2 linked regions of the Homo sapiens genome follow. The protein of the gene in region 1 interacts with the protein of each later gene in a pairwise test. Each region holds a gene or a part of one and is shown on either strand. Other genes may lie near its edges.

Region 1 (7,058 bases):
AGACAAGAAGCTGTTGCTCCACATACACCATTCAGAAAACAAGGCAATTTTAACATCCCATGTTGGAAAAAAACAAAAACAAAAACAAGGCACACTTTTCTTAATTGGACCTCATTCAAATATTTACTGGGGAACATGTCTCCATGTCTCCTGGTAAAGTCAGGTAACTGCCTGCTTTGTAATGCATGGATTTTGCTTATGATGTCATAGACGTCAATAGAAATTCTACAGTTGAAATTAAAGATGAGTCAGCAAGGATGAGAAACATAACCAAAGCATAGAAGGAATGGGGAACCTTCTTAGGAGCTCAGATGCTTCATTCATCTCATGCAGCAATTCACATCTGTAAACAGATGATTAGGTGGTGCCCTTACCCCACATGCACCTTTAAAATGACCTAACGTGCTTTCCCCCTTCAGTGGGCAAGCTCATCACATAAATGGGCATGTTCCCGGCTCATGCCAATAATTCTTCCAGCGCCCCAGACTGAAGAAGTGTTGTCATTTAAAAGCAGCAAATGTGCTGTAAACATCAACCAATAGTAGTCTTTGAAGCTACAAGCAAGACACACTTCGCACATTGTACTGAGGTTGTCTGCCAGTGGGATTTTACCCCTCAAATCCAGGTATGGTCAGAGACAGAGCTCCATGAACTCACTTAACTTAGAAAAAAACATCGGGAACAGGCACTTGAAAGGGGAAACAAAACAGGTCTGTTACCGAACAGGAGACCTTCAAACGTGGCCAAATTCCATGATTCAAACAAGCAGTCATGATAAAGAATGTGTATAGTTTTGACTTCAGATAGAAAAAATATAACTAGAAATATAAGATTTAGAAAAGACTTTCATCTTTTTCTAGTTAAAAGCACCAAGTTCTCTTAACTGAAATGATTAAATAATTACACAAGTTGAATAATATTGTGCAGTTATGGTAAGAAAATAATTCTGCCATTAAGTAAGGATGACATTGTATACTAAGAACATTCATGTTTTCAAGACAAACCTGCCAACACCAATACTTAACAGATTCGTTTTAAATACATAAGAATCTGAGCTAACATGACCATGCACTGGTGTCTAAGGTAGGCTTAGCACATACCTAATTACTTATGACTGCAAAGTTAGGAGTCTTGCTCTTAAAATGCTCCATCTTATTGTAATACTTGGCCTCCAACGCTAAAAAAAAAGTTTCTTTCAATACAATTCAGACAGGCTGTTTCAAATAATCAAGGTCCTTATTAGAAAGAAAGCGCCAATCACATCTTGTAGCAAACAGGTGAGCAGAGGCCACTCTTGACTGGAAAACATCAAATTTAGCACCTTAATTAATACTGAGCGCAAAGGAGAGCATTTACTAGAATACGCGCAGTTGCTTTATTTGTTGACGTTATTGCCAATAACTCATCAAGTGGGTCAATCATGAAGTATGATGAATCCACTTCAACGCTTCCGCTATAATTACAATGATTAAAAGCAAGAATTGCTTTGCTCGAATGTCTGGAGAAAAATGCACAATCCCTAACCGTGGGAGGGCATCATTATAAAGCTGAAGGCAGTGACCAGACGGAAAGCCTGTGATTCCACAGCGCCTGCAGTTTTTACTGCGGTTTATTTCCAGGTAATCCCCGCATATTTTCTCGGGTTTGATTACCATGGGCAACAGTGGGATAGCTATTCATATTACAAAGTACTTCAAGAAACGAACACCCACATTTTACATGAAATTTAATTTTCATATTTTGTAGTAAAAGCCCAGAAAGGTGCTACTTGAATGAAGATGCACCTGTCTCTACATAGAAATCTTTTTAACATCACAGTAGCGACGACCACAGTCCTAGTTTAGAATCATTATTATGACGATAGGAATTTGTAGCAGCCCTCAACCCGTGGCCTTCTGAACCGTCTCTCCACTGTCCTATAAGGGAGGGCTAACTGTATTCCTGGTCGCTCCTGGGACTGGGAGCTCCTGGGGAAGGAATCCTAAAGGAGTGGTTGTCAATGCATTTTCATTAACAGCCGCGCTTCTCGGCAGCCTCCTAGGGCTGGGGTGGCCACGTGCTCCCTTAAACTGTTTTCACAACTCGAGGCTGTGCTGTGGGTGGCAACTTGAAGGTTTCCAAGAACTTTTCGTTTTTCTTTGGGCCAACATTTCTGTTTTCTGTCAATCAATAGTTTAGTTATTTAAAAATAAGAAGGTGAAGAGGGAGTTATTTAGGGTGGGAACCAGAATAGACTTCAAAAAAGAAATCCGTATTACCCAGTTGGCGTCCCAGCGGTTCCCCGAATGGCCTAGAGCCCCCAGCACCTGCCGAGGCCGCGCCATGCACCTGGCTGGGCTCAAACTGGCCAACTCAGACCTGGCCTGGGCGCCCGAAGGCTGCAGGGGGGACGCTCCGGTCCGAGCCACCGCCTGGGCCCGAAAGAGCCGCTCCTGGGAAGCAATGCCGGGCCAATCTCAAATCCCAAATTCTGGAAAGCACTACTTCCCACGCAGTAAAGGGAAGCCCGGGCGCCTCAAAACCAAACCTTGGAAGACGCTGGAGGAGCAAAGCCTGCAAGTTTCCAGTAAGACACTGGGCTGGAGGGAGCAGAGCGGCCAGGGGGCGGGTGCCCACTGCGTCCCGGGGCTCCGGCGCCCACCCTCCGGCCAGCCGTCCCCGGAGACAGGGAAGGGGTCGCGGGGAGCGAGGGGGCGTGGAGGGAGGAGGGGCGGGGGGAGAAGGGCGCGAAGGAGAGGGAAGGGGGGCCGGAGGTGAAGGGGCGCTGAGGGGCCGCACTCACCCGCGCAGGTACCAGCAGGCAGCCCTGGCGTCCGCGGGAGGCGGCCGGGGGCGGGGGTCCCTCGGTGCCCATCGCCGCCCCTGCGGCTGGGTCCGCGCTCCGGGCCGGCCGAGCTCAACGCCAGGACCCCGTCCGAGCCTCCCAGGGCCCCGCCAGGCGCCGCGTCCGCGCCCGCGCCCCTCTGCCGGCTCCGGCTCGGGCTCCACCGGGGCGCAGGGCTGGGGAACCGGAGCTCCGCCCGCCGACCCGGAGCACCGCCCACGCAGACCCGCCCCGGGCGAGGGAGGGGCCGGGCGCGCACCCGCGGGGAGGGCGGCGAGCGGGGATCAGCCGAAGTCGGGAGAGGGGCGCTTCCACGGGGCGGGAAACTGGCGCGCGACTCTGGGGGAAGTGCAGGATGGGGGGACAGGGGCGCTCCCGCGGGGGTGGATGGGGGACCATAGCGGGGCTGGCGGGGCAGGGGCCGGCGCACGAGGCTGGAGGAGGGGAGCGCGCGCTTCTACCCGGGCTGGGTCGCCGAGGTCCGCGGCGCATCGTGGCGGCGGTGGGCGGAGGGGGGCGGGGGGCACCTCTTCTCCCTTGTGGCGCAGGTGGGCGCGCTCTGGACCGGCTTGACGACCCCTCCCCGCCGCCCCACCTCCCTGGCCAAAGGTTCTCAGCTTCTAATCAGGGACATTTCTAGTCCACAGCCTCGAAGCCATGGGTTCTCCCCGGCCCTCTGAAGCCGCCACACCTGTGCCAGCCGGCCGCGTCCTCAGACCTTTCCCCGCGGAGTCTTCCCAGCACTTGGAGACGCAGCGCAGGGCCCCGAGGACGGCCTGGCCCGGAGAAAAGATACCGAAGCTCCAACTTTCCCCAACCCCGCTCCCCTCCTCCTTCCACCCTCCCTTCCCGCCCCCAAAGCTCGGGGGTCCTATCCCTCCTCCGGTCCGCGGAGTCTCCCGAACCCTGCGGGGACCCGGCGCTCGGCGGTGCCCTCCTGGGGCGCACGGGGCTGGGGCGGGAGCGAGGAGACCAGGTGGGGAGGGGACCCCAGATCTCAGACGCCAGGGGAGACGGCGTTTCCCGCTGTTCATTCAGGTTTGTGCCAAAAGGAGCCTCACAGATGCAGTATTGGGTTTGGTAGACTCAAATCGTCTTGTTTTAATGTAAATGAAAGTAAGTTTAGGATAAATTCCAGTGCGGCGGGGGCAGGCAAGGCTACCCACATTTTTTAAAAAGAAGCCAGCCCGTATTTTTCTCCCTTTCCAAATCCTCCGCCCCCCAGTCCTTCGACCCAGGCACGAGCGCCCATCGCGGAGGCCACGATGCCCGTTTTATTCCCTCTCCACGGCAAGGAAAAGCAGCGAAATCTGAGGTCTTCAGAGGTTAACCCTATCTAGGAGCAGAATGTGACGCATTGTAAACAAATAAATATTGAAAACTCGATGTTAAACACTTTACTTTTTCTGACTCCGACTTGCTTGACCCCTGAGCAGACCTGGGTTTCGAACACAGACGCCCTTCCCCATTTCTCTATTCTCTGTATTCCTGTTTCACCTTCACGGCAGTCTGCCAGCACTTCTTAGCACTCAGTTTAACCAGAGGACAAGCTCTTGAATAGCAAAAACCAGGTCTTTTTATACGTGGCACAGTGGCTGTTACAAAATATGCTTCTTGGGTGAATTGGTAAAAAATATTGTATTACTTTTTATTTGTAGCAAAACCTAGAATAAGAAAAAGTACAAGAGATTATTGTTTGCCTTTAAATTGCATTTTTAAAAGAGCGTGCATATAATCTCTGAGAAATTAAATGTCTACAAATAGCACAAAGATATTGTCTCATTACCTTGCAAAGGGACATTCTATTCCAGGGCCTGAAGAAGGAAAAACAGCGTGTTGCATGCATAAATGTTGACTTTGAGAGACAAGTTTTTGTTAAAATTTTATCGTTAAATGAATAGACACATATATTTTTGTTTTTCAGACCAAAGGTAATTGTTAATTCATTTGTAAAATAATGTAGTTTTGGCTAACAATCTCTGGAATCCTTTCTATAATAAAATTTTGTGATTCCAGGACGTCGTAGGCGCTCTGGGGCTGCTTTTGAAAGGCTAATTAATTCAAGTTTTAACTGCCTATCTGCTTTTATGCATCTGTGTCAGGACTGCACGTAAGGGTTATTTTGCTTATTTTAAATACTAGGGTTCTACTGCAATAACAATAACAATAAAAAGTAAAACCCTGACTATCCTGAAACTCTGCGAGGGAATGTCCCCCATGAGGTTACCAAAATTCAACTTTCTGGTTTTTGTGATGAGTATAGCTTTGATTCTGAGATGTGTCTAAAACCAGTTGCAGTTAGTGTCTCTTTATTAACTTTTAACTTTGAAATAATTCTGAATTTACAGAAACTTTCTAAATGTAGTACAAAAAACTCCAGTAACCCCTCATCCTCATGGGTATGTTCCAAGACCCCCAGTGGCTGCCTGATACCGTGGATAGTACTGAACTATGTATGTGTGTATATATATGTATCAATTGCATGCATATATATATGTATCAATTGCATGCATATATATATATATATATATATGCATATATATGTATGCATCAATTGCTGACCAAACTGATGTATGTGGCCTAGACAAACTGGAAGATGCCCTGGTCAAAAGGCAGGAGCAATGAGGTTGTATTTCAAGGTAAAAATACAACCTTGAGGCCGGGCACAGTGCTTCACACCTGTAATCCCAGCAATTCGGGAGGCCAAGGCAGGTAGATTGCTTTGAGCTCAGGTGTTTGAGACCAGCCTGGGCAACATGGTAAAACCGCGTCTCTACAAAAAAATACAAAAATTAGCCAGGCATGGTGGCATGCACCTGTGGTCCCAGCTACTAGGGATGCTGAGGCTGGAGAATCCCTTGAACCCTGGAGGCGGAGGTTGCATTGAGCCGAGATCATGCCACTGCGCTCCAGCTTGGGCGACAGAGTGAGACCCGGTCTTAATAATAATACAACCTTGGCCTTGTCATTTTTATAGTCAACATATTCAGAATGGCCAGGTACATTGTCTGTTACTAATGAGACTTTATATTCCAACCTTCCCCCTTCCAAGGCTTTGGGAGGAAGTACTGGTGGAGCCCTTCCATAAACATGGTGGTTACCACTCATGCTTTCTGGTTATGTTGCCTGAACACAAGCAGGTAACGTTTGTTTTTTGAGCATAAGTGTTCCTCTGTGTGTGCAGCACACCTGGCTTGGCCACACGTCCTACAGCATTGCACACGGCACAGGGTAAATCAGCCCTTCAGTGTTTTATGCCCTGGGGCCTTCTTTGCCCTTTCAAGAACGTAGGTTCTGTTGGGTATCTTCTTCCAGAGGAGCCTGGTCTCACTGCAATTGAAGACTTGCTTTGGATGGCATCCTTTCCCTTTAATCAACTTCAACTCTGCCGGAAATATGGCAGCAGCTTCTTCACTGGCAAACACAGCCTCTCCAGTTTTTTGGTTTTTGGTTTTTGGTTTCGTGACAAGCCCACTCCTAAATCAGTGTAGCTATGCCTCACTTGCCATGAATGGCTCAGTGTCACTCACTTTGGGGGACTGACTGCTGAAGTCTTCCCATGGGATTGTGCTTTCTGCGCTGACGTGCCCTCGGTGGGAACACCTTTCCGCTCATGTCTTCTACCTACAAGTTCAGCGTCTTTTCCGTCTTAAATAGGCACTTATCACTCACTGCAGCCGTAACGTTTGCAGTTTGAAATGTGATAGCAAAACTAGCATGATTTCTTTTTTATTTTTATTTTTATTTTTATTTTTATTTTTTATTTTATTTATTTATTTTGAGATAGAGTCTCACTCTTGTCGCCTAGGCTGGAGTGCAGTGGCGCGATCTCGGCTCACTGCAAGCTCTACCTCGCTGGTTGAAACAATTCTCCTGCCTCAGCCTTCTGATTAGCTGTGATTACAGGCGCCCACTACCACGCCAGGCTGATTTTTTTGTATTTTTAGTAGAGATAGGGTTTCATCATGTTGGCCAGGCTGGTCTCAAATTCCAGACCTCAGGTGATCCGCCTGCCTCAGCCTCCCAAAGTGCTGGGATTACAGGCGTGAGCCACCATGCGCAGCTGGGTTTCATTTTCGAATTAACTTAAAATACTTTCTGGACTGACAGCCTTGTGGGAACATCCTTTATATTGCTTGATTTGCTAACTGAACCTATTCCCCCTCCAGGCATAGTCTTATTTCTGCAAGGAAGACCTATTACCTTCCTGTTTCACACTTGGTTACCATTCTGT
Region 2 (7,034 bases), on another chromosome or scaffold:
CAAATGTAGGTTTCCATTGGCAATGAATATGTGACTATCTTCATACAAAGGAGAAGTATTTCCTCTCAACGAGCTAAAACAATAAGTGGTATTTGAACTGCTGGTTGAAAGGTAGAGGCACTGGTAATCATTATTTCCCCTTGTTTGTTCAGCCCCTTCCAACAAAACAAACAACCTTTTTGTGATTGGATTGACATGGTGTTAACAATGCATTTAATGCCCAAATCAGTATGAATACAGGTAAAGCTCTCACTAATACCAGTACCAGGATGTTAAAGCCACCTATTTTCTAAGCAGCCAAAAAAAAAAAAAAAAAAAGGAGAGCTTCCCCTCCTTTGGCAAATAAGCCAGTATGCTAGTATTCACCAAGATACATCATATAATAACCTTGTGTGTGATTCTTCAAGCCATGTGTTAATACTCCTCTACTATACCTGCTGTCTTTTCAGCAATTTTAGCTTCTGTTTCTTTCTCTTGGAGTTCCAGCTTAAACTTTAGTTTTCTCTGTTCTTTATCTTCTTTAGCCAATTTCTGCTGAAGCTAAAGCACATTGAAAAAAATCATGGATTCTTATTTGACAAATGTCTTGCAAAAATATAATTAATTTCAAAGTTTTTGGTTTTTTCTTAATTCTTATATTATATTTAACTTCCTAGATAGATAACTCCAGAAAAAAATTTAAAATTTAAGTTATTTATAAAGTAATAATTACCTGTAGTTATACAGAAATTGTAAAAACATCCCAATATACACTTAATTTATGTGTATATGTGCATGAACAGGCAAATTAAATTCAGAGGACCAACATTATTCTTAAAAATAACTACTGCAGTTCAGATGTGGTTGCTCACGCCTGTAATCCCAGCCCTTTGGGAGGCCGAGGTGGGCAGATCACCTGAGGTCAGGAGTTTGAGACCAGCCTGGCCAACATGATGAAACCCCGTCTCTACTAAAAATACAAAAAATTAGCTAGGTGTGGTGGCGGGCACCTGTAATCCCAGCTACTCGAGAGGCTGAGGCAGGAGAATTGCTTGAACCCAGGAGGCGGAGATTGCAGTGGGCTGAGATCGCGCCATTGAACTCCAGCCTGGGCAACAAGAGTGAAACTCCATCTCAAAAAAAATAATAATAATAATGACTACTGCAAAAGCAGTCTCATTCATCCTTTTTTCTTAATGCAAAATATTTGGAAGGGATTTGCCTAATAAAATAACAGATAGCACTGCTTTACAGTTTATCTTAGTAAATCCAATATTCTGAAACAAAATTAAGACAATAATCTTAATATCTGATACAAATCTCCCTTTGAGAATACTACCCCATCATATTCCATTTAAATTGACACTGACACCTGACTCATAAGTGGCATGTAATAAATAACTGCTAAATGAAAGTACAGAAAACATCTCATACAGAATCCCTCCACATGTTTTTTTAATTCCTCCCTAGGTTTTTGTCATTTTAGTTGTTTTCCTCCAAACATGATCAACATTCCTAACATCATGCTTCAGTTTGATTAGGTTACACAACTAGAATATTAAAATCAGAGCAGTATGTAGAGGTTAAAAAAAAAAGAAGACACAGAAAATGCACATTATTTAATAAAATTATTTAATGATCACATGACTATAACTAGAATAAGAGTCAGAACAGAAGATAAAACATAACGTGACAAATTGGACTGGACAAAATGCAGCAGTATAAGATTAACACAAGGTAAATGACAATATTGCCAAGCCTTGCTACTGAAATGTTTAATTACATGTATTATTGAGGTCAAATATAGGGCATGGATACTAATAAAGAAAAAAAAATTAAGATAGTAACATGAAACCAGTGCATTCTATCTCCCATTCTCTATAATACTGAAGCAGAGTTTTACTAAAACTTGAATCTTTTTTTTTAAAGATATGTATACAAGGAACCAGGGGCTTATGAAAAAGGAAGTGCTAATGTGGACCAGCAAGGTATGAAATCAAAAAAATGCTTTCATTTTCAACCCCTTAACTCAACCATACCCTGATGGCAAGGTATGGCAAAAACATAAAGCTACTGTTAAATGATTAAAGTGCAAAATAAAACTGAATTATGATGGGCAACAAAGGAAATTTAGAAGATCAACAGCTAAACCCATACTATACAATTATCAGACTTTCCATATTATACCTTTTTATTGCTTGTTCTGAGAATATCCAATTCTTTTAGAAGAAATGCTATTGTCTTCTCTTTATCTGAGTCTGAAGTAACTTGACAAGGAGTCATACATTCATAATGCATATCATTATGTCTATGTTCCATAACGCTGTAATAAAGAAACTGATTAACATTTCAGAGTAAGATAAACTAATTTTTTGACATTTTGTATGCTACTTGAGAACAGTATCAACTTGTAAGCAAACACCATAAAGGAAGGGAAAGGAAAAGAGATGGGCTGTTTTTTTGAAGGCCTTATATTAAATTTGTAAGCACAGGTAAATTTTGGAGTCACTAAGAAGAAATTTAGTGACGGCTGGGACAGTCAGTGCAGCTCTATTTACCACGTACATCTCCTGTTGTAATTATGCTAGATATCTCATAATCTGACTTTAGCCCAATCTCTACTATTTACTTTACCCATGTGGTTATAAAATGTTTATCCCTACTTCATTCTTCTGTGCTTCTACTCCTCAAAAGGGACTCCAACCTACACCTTAGTAAGAATCTGAAAAAGGGATGGGAACATATCAATACATCTATTTCATTATATGTTACTATCTATTAACATATCTACTGAATAATTTGAAAGTAGAATAAAAGTTCCTATGCAAAAATCTGTTAAAAATAGTATGCTGCAAAATATTATTTTGTCTAGACTGAAAATATATTAGTCACTGAAACTTCTTTTTAAATCTAATAATATTTTTCTAGCACATGACTAATTATCAAAGTTCCTTAATCTCATGGGTAGAAGTATCAGGTATCACAAATTCAAATCCTTTCATGAGCTAGGTAGGCAAGGTTACTGGGTAAAAGCTGAGAAAGTAAAATAATGAGGAATGCAAATGGTAGAGAACAAGGCCCTTTTAAAAGCATCAAATTCATTTAAATGAAAAATAGCGCTAACCCAAACCAAAATGCATGTTTGGGCTTACCTTGTCCTGGAGCTGCCAGTTTTTTACTTTCATGAATGATATGTCATGTATATCAATTTAACAGTTATTTCCAAATACATAAAGAAAGGTCACAGAAAATAATATTGAATAAAATAGAATTAAACCTGTCTTTCTTCAGATGCACTTTGTGCTTTTTCACTTAGTTAACTAGACATATTATATCCATACCATGGAAACAGTAGAAAACCCTGGTAGATTCGCCAAGTTCTAATAAGTTTAGAATTAGCCAACACCAAAAAGAAAGAAGGAAAGAGGAAGAAAGGGAAGAAGGGAGGGAGAAAAAGTTCTTCCAATTCTAACTTTCTCTTTTTTTTTTTTTCTTCAGACAATCTTGCTCTGTTGCCTAGGCTGGAGTACAGTGGCACAATCTCAGCTCACTGCAACCTCCGCCTCCCAGGTTCAAGCGATTCTCATGACTCAGCCTCCTGAGTAGCTGGGATTACAGGCATGTGCCACCACACCTGGCTGATTTTTGTATTTTCAGTAGAGACAGGGTTTCACCATGTTGGCCAGGCTGGTCTCGAACTCCTGACCTCAAGTGATCCACCCACCTCGTCCTCCCAAAGTGCTGAGATTACAGGCATGAGCCACCACGCCTGGCCCCAATTCCTTCTAAATCTAAGGCTGTGAGCACTTACTTGTATTTTTCAGTAGTGCAGTAAACAGACTCATCATCTGGATAAGAACTGATGATCTGAAAATTCGTTGATCTCTGCCCTGGCCATTCTGTGTTCTCACATGTTATTTCATTAACTAATTCAGTGGATTTCCGATGCATACTTTTCTCAGAATTCATAGTCAGTTGCTCATCTGGCTGCGTACTTTTATTTATCCCCGTAGTTTCTTGTTCAAGATAACTGTGGGTTATGTCTGTATTTAAACAAACAAATAACACATGATATATTAAACACCATAACTGCATATTAAATCATTCAGTCAAATAAATATTTTTGGAAACACTCTTTAGCTTTAAACATATAGTTTCTAGTCTTACTCCTACTGTAATCAGATAAGCATTGGGATAAGTTGTAGATAATGGTAAATTTGGTCTCAAATAGGCCAAAAAGAGTTGGGACTTAAGAGTCTGAAGCAGTTGTGGGGCTGTCATGGGGACCTGGGGGCTTTTATAGTTGGCAGTGGTCCATGGACCATCCTTTTTCCTTTTGAAGAAATATGGCACTTCATAAACTGAAGAATGTGGGGCCTAAGAGTTTTTTAAAAATATGTCCCTAGGGGCAATGTTTGTTATTTTGATAATGCTTTCAGTAACTATTTCTGATTGCTTTTCATTTGAGTTACTTACAATGTTATGTTAGTGTTAGAAAGCATGGTCTGTTAATGATATAGAGGCTTTCCTTAGTGCCCGTTTATAAACTTTTGTCATTCAGATTTTAAGAGTTTCATTATACTAATGCCAGCCTATTACAGAAAACTAGCATGGTGACCATCTAATGCAAACCAAGTAAGCATTTTGAGCTGTCAAGAATGAACAAGTAATCTTCAGATGTATCTGTTCCTAAAACTGTCAAATGTAAATGGTTGTTTACTAGTTTTATAGTTCTCTTTCTTTGGCTTTAACCTAATGTGAAATTTTGTGATCCCCTGAACTCTTGATAAATTACCACTATTTAACTTGTGACCACACTATCTTCTTCAATCTTAGAGGAGATGCAGAAGCTTCCCAATAAGAGCTTCCTAATAAGAAGACTCTGTGTTGATCCCTCCTGGGTCTTAGTAATTATAACCCCTTGAAGTTTTATTACAATAAATCCATCAATTTCTGACACACTCCAGACTTCCATTCTAAAATTTAATTATAAATGTTTAATATTTTTAAAGAACCCATACTGTGTGACATGGCTCTATTTCTGGATATTTCTCATTTTGTTCAGTAGTAAAAGCTTTCAGATTTCTATTTCAAAAGGCTCATCAGAAATTTGGAGCCTGCTCTGCAAATCAGACTATCCATACTCTTCTACTGAAAATTTATTTAAAAAAAATGTTTTAGGTCAGGATCTTGCAGTGTTGCCCAGGCTGGCCTCAAACTCCTGGGTTTAAGCAATCCTCCCACCTCAGACTCCCAGTCTGAGAATTTAATTTTACTTTAGAATACACATGGCTGACTTATAAAAATTTTCCTGCCTGTCTTGTTTTTTTGACCAACTATTTTGGCAAGTATGATTCCAGCAAATCAATGTTAAATCCTCTGAAGGCTTTCAATGCTCTCCTCTCTGCCATCCTGCGTTACACTATATTAGTATTCAAACATTTGTATAAAAAGTTTGACTCTTCTAATTTATTTATTCATTAATTTACTGATCGTTCATTGAAAACTTACAGTGTGGTATGTCTTGTGGTAGCTACTGGGAAAACAAAGATGAATAAGAAACAAACACTCCACTCAAAGACTCTCTAGTACAGTGAGGATGGCAAACTCATCTAATGATCTGAATACAGTATAATAAGGACTATGCTTGGGCTATGGAGGCCAAATACATACAATATGCTAGACATACTAATGCTCACCTGGAAGACTCTAGGAAGACTTCACAAAGGCATTTGCTCCAAAAAAGGTCAAGTAGGGATATGCGAAGTAGCAAACTGCCAAAGGATAGCCAGAGTTAGATGAAATAAAAAGTTAATAGACTATAAAAATAGGAAGAATAGGAATAGATATAGAGGAGAAGAAATAAATTTAGGAAAAATGAAGAGACATTTCTTGTATTGAAATGACAAGATGTTATAGTCGGAAGAAAATTTCTAAAATCAGTATTAAGGACAAAGTCCAAGGTATGGCTCATCTGGAAATGAGTTGATGAAATAAATTAAAAGTGAACATACTTGGAGTGGAGAAAATCAAAAAGTCAAAGTGCTGAAAGTACCACCTTTGAAGGCATTGAAGTCATCCAGAAAAATGGCAGAAAATGGAGAGAAGAAATGAGAGCCAAACATCAAAGATTTCAATGACTGCAGAAGCAAGCTAAATGAGAAAGCCGACAAAAACTGACATTAGATAATCCTTCATTTGTACCTTTTCATTTTGAAATAATTTGTCTCATAAGAAAGTTGCAAAACAAAGAATTACTGTATGCCCTTTACCTAGACTCCCCAAATATTAACATTTTATCATGCTTGCTTTATTAACCATTCTTTCTATAACTATCTACACAATTTTTTTTTTTGAGAGGGTTTCGCTCCGTCACCCACGTTGGAGTGCAGTAGCACAATCATGGCTCGCTGCAGCCTTGACCTCCCGGGCTTAAGCAATTTTCCCAACTCAGCCCCCCGAATAGTTGAGACTACAGCTGTGTGCTGTGTTGCCATGCCTCACTAATTTTTTTTTTTTCAGAGATGGGGTCTTGCCATGTTGCCCAGGCTGGTCTCAAACTCCTGGGCTCAAGCAATCCTCCTGCCTCTGCCTCCCAAAGTATTGGGATTACAGGCATAAGCCACCATGCCTGACCTTACAATTTTTTTTTTTCTGAAACATTAGTGAGTAAGCAACAGGCATGAAACACTTTGACTTTTCAAGACAAATTTTAAGATACTGCTCTATCATCTTGCATTTTGCCTAATTTTCTTTACCTTATTCATAGCCCAAATTTATTTCTGAATTAGTACCTTTTCTAACCAAGAGAAGATGAAAGCAGTTAGTAACTCTAAGTTCAGACTTCAGTTATTTTCCCTAAACTCTCCAGCCCAGGAGAAGGATCTTTATGAAGCAATAATGAGACGAAGCTACTAAGAGCTTTAGCTGAGCTTATTTGTATTGCCCCATCACTTTAAAAAGAACTGCATACAGAAATATAAACACAAGCCAATAAAATGCCATTAAAGTGAAGCTATTGGTCTGTTTTGCATATTAGTCAATTTAAAAGATAA

Evidence for each region. Proteins that work in one complex are often made in the same cells at the same time.
Region 2: the proteins of SNTG2 (region 1) and MIPOL1 interact in binary tests that used the Homo sapiens proteins (3 or more experiments, as listed by UniProt).

The regions. Positions count from the first base shown.
Region 1 is NC_000002.12:946,793-953,850, reverse strand, and holds the start of SNTG2 (gamma-2-syntrophin), read right to left. Parts: upstream 3,003-7,058; 5' UTR 2,855-3,002; coding exon 2,783-2,854; intron 2,567-2,782; exon of another isoform or gene 2,459-2,566; intron 1-2,458. UniProt on the Homo sapiens protein: Adapter protein that binds to and probably organizes the subcellular localization of a variety of proteins. May link various receptors to the actin cytoskeleton and the dystrophin glycoprotein complex.
Region 2 is NC_000014.9:37,263,926-37,270,959, reverse strand, and holds part of MIPOL1 (mirror-image polydactyly gene 1 protein), read right to left. Parts: intron 5,754-7,034; exon of another isoform or gene 5,679-5,753; intron 4,023-5,678; coding exon 3,791-4,022; intron 2,303-3,790; coding exon 2,167-2,302; intron 541-2,166; coding exon 435-540; intron 1-434.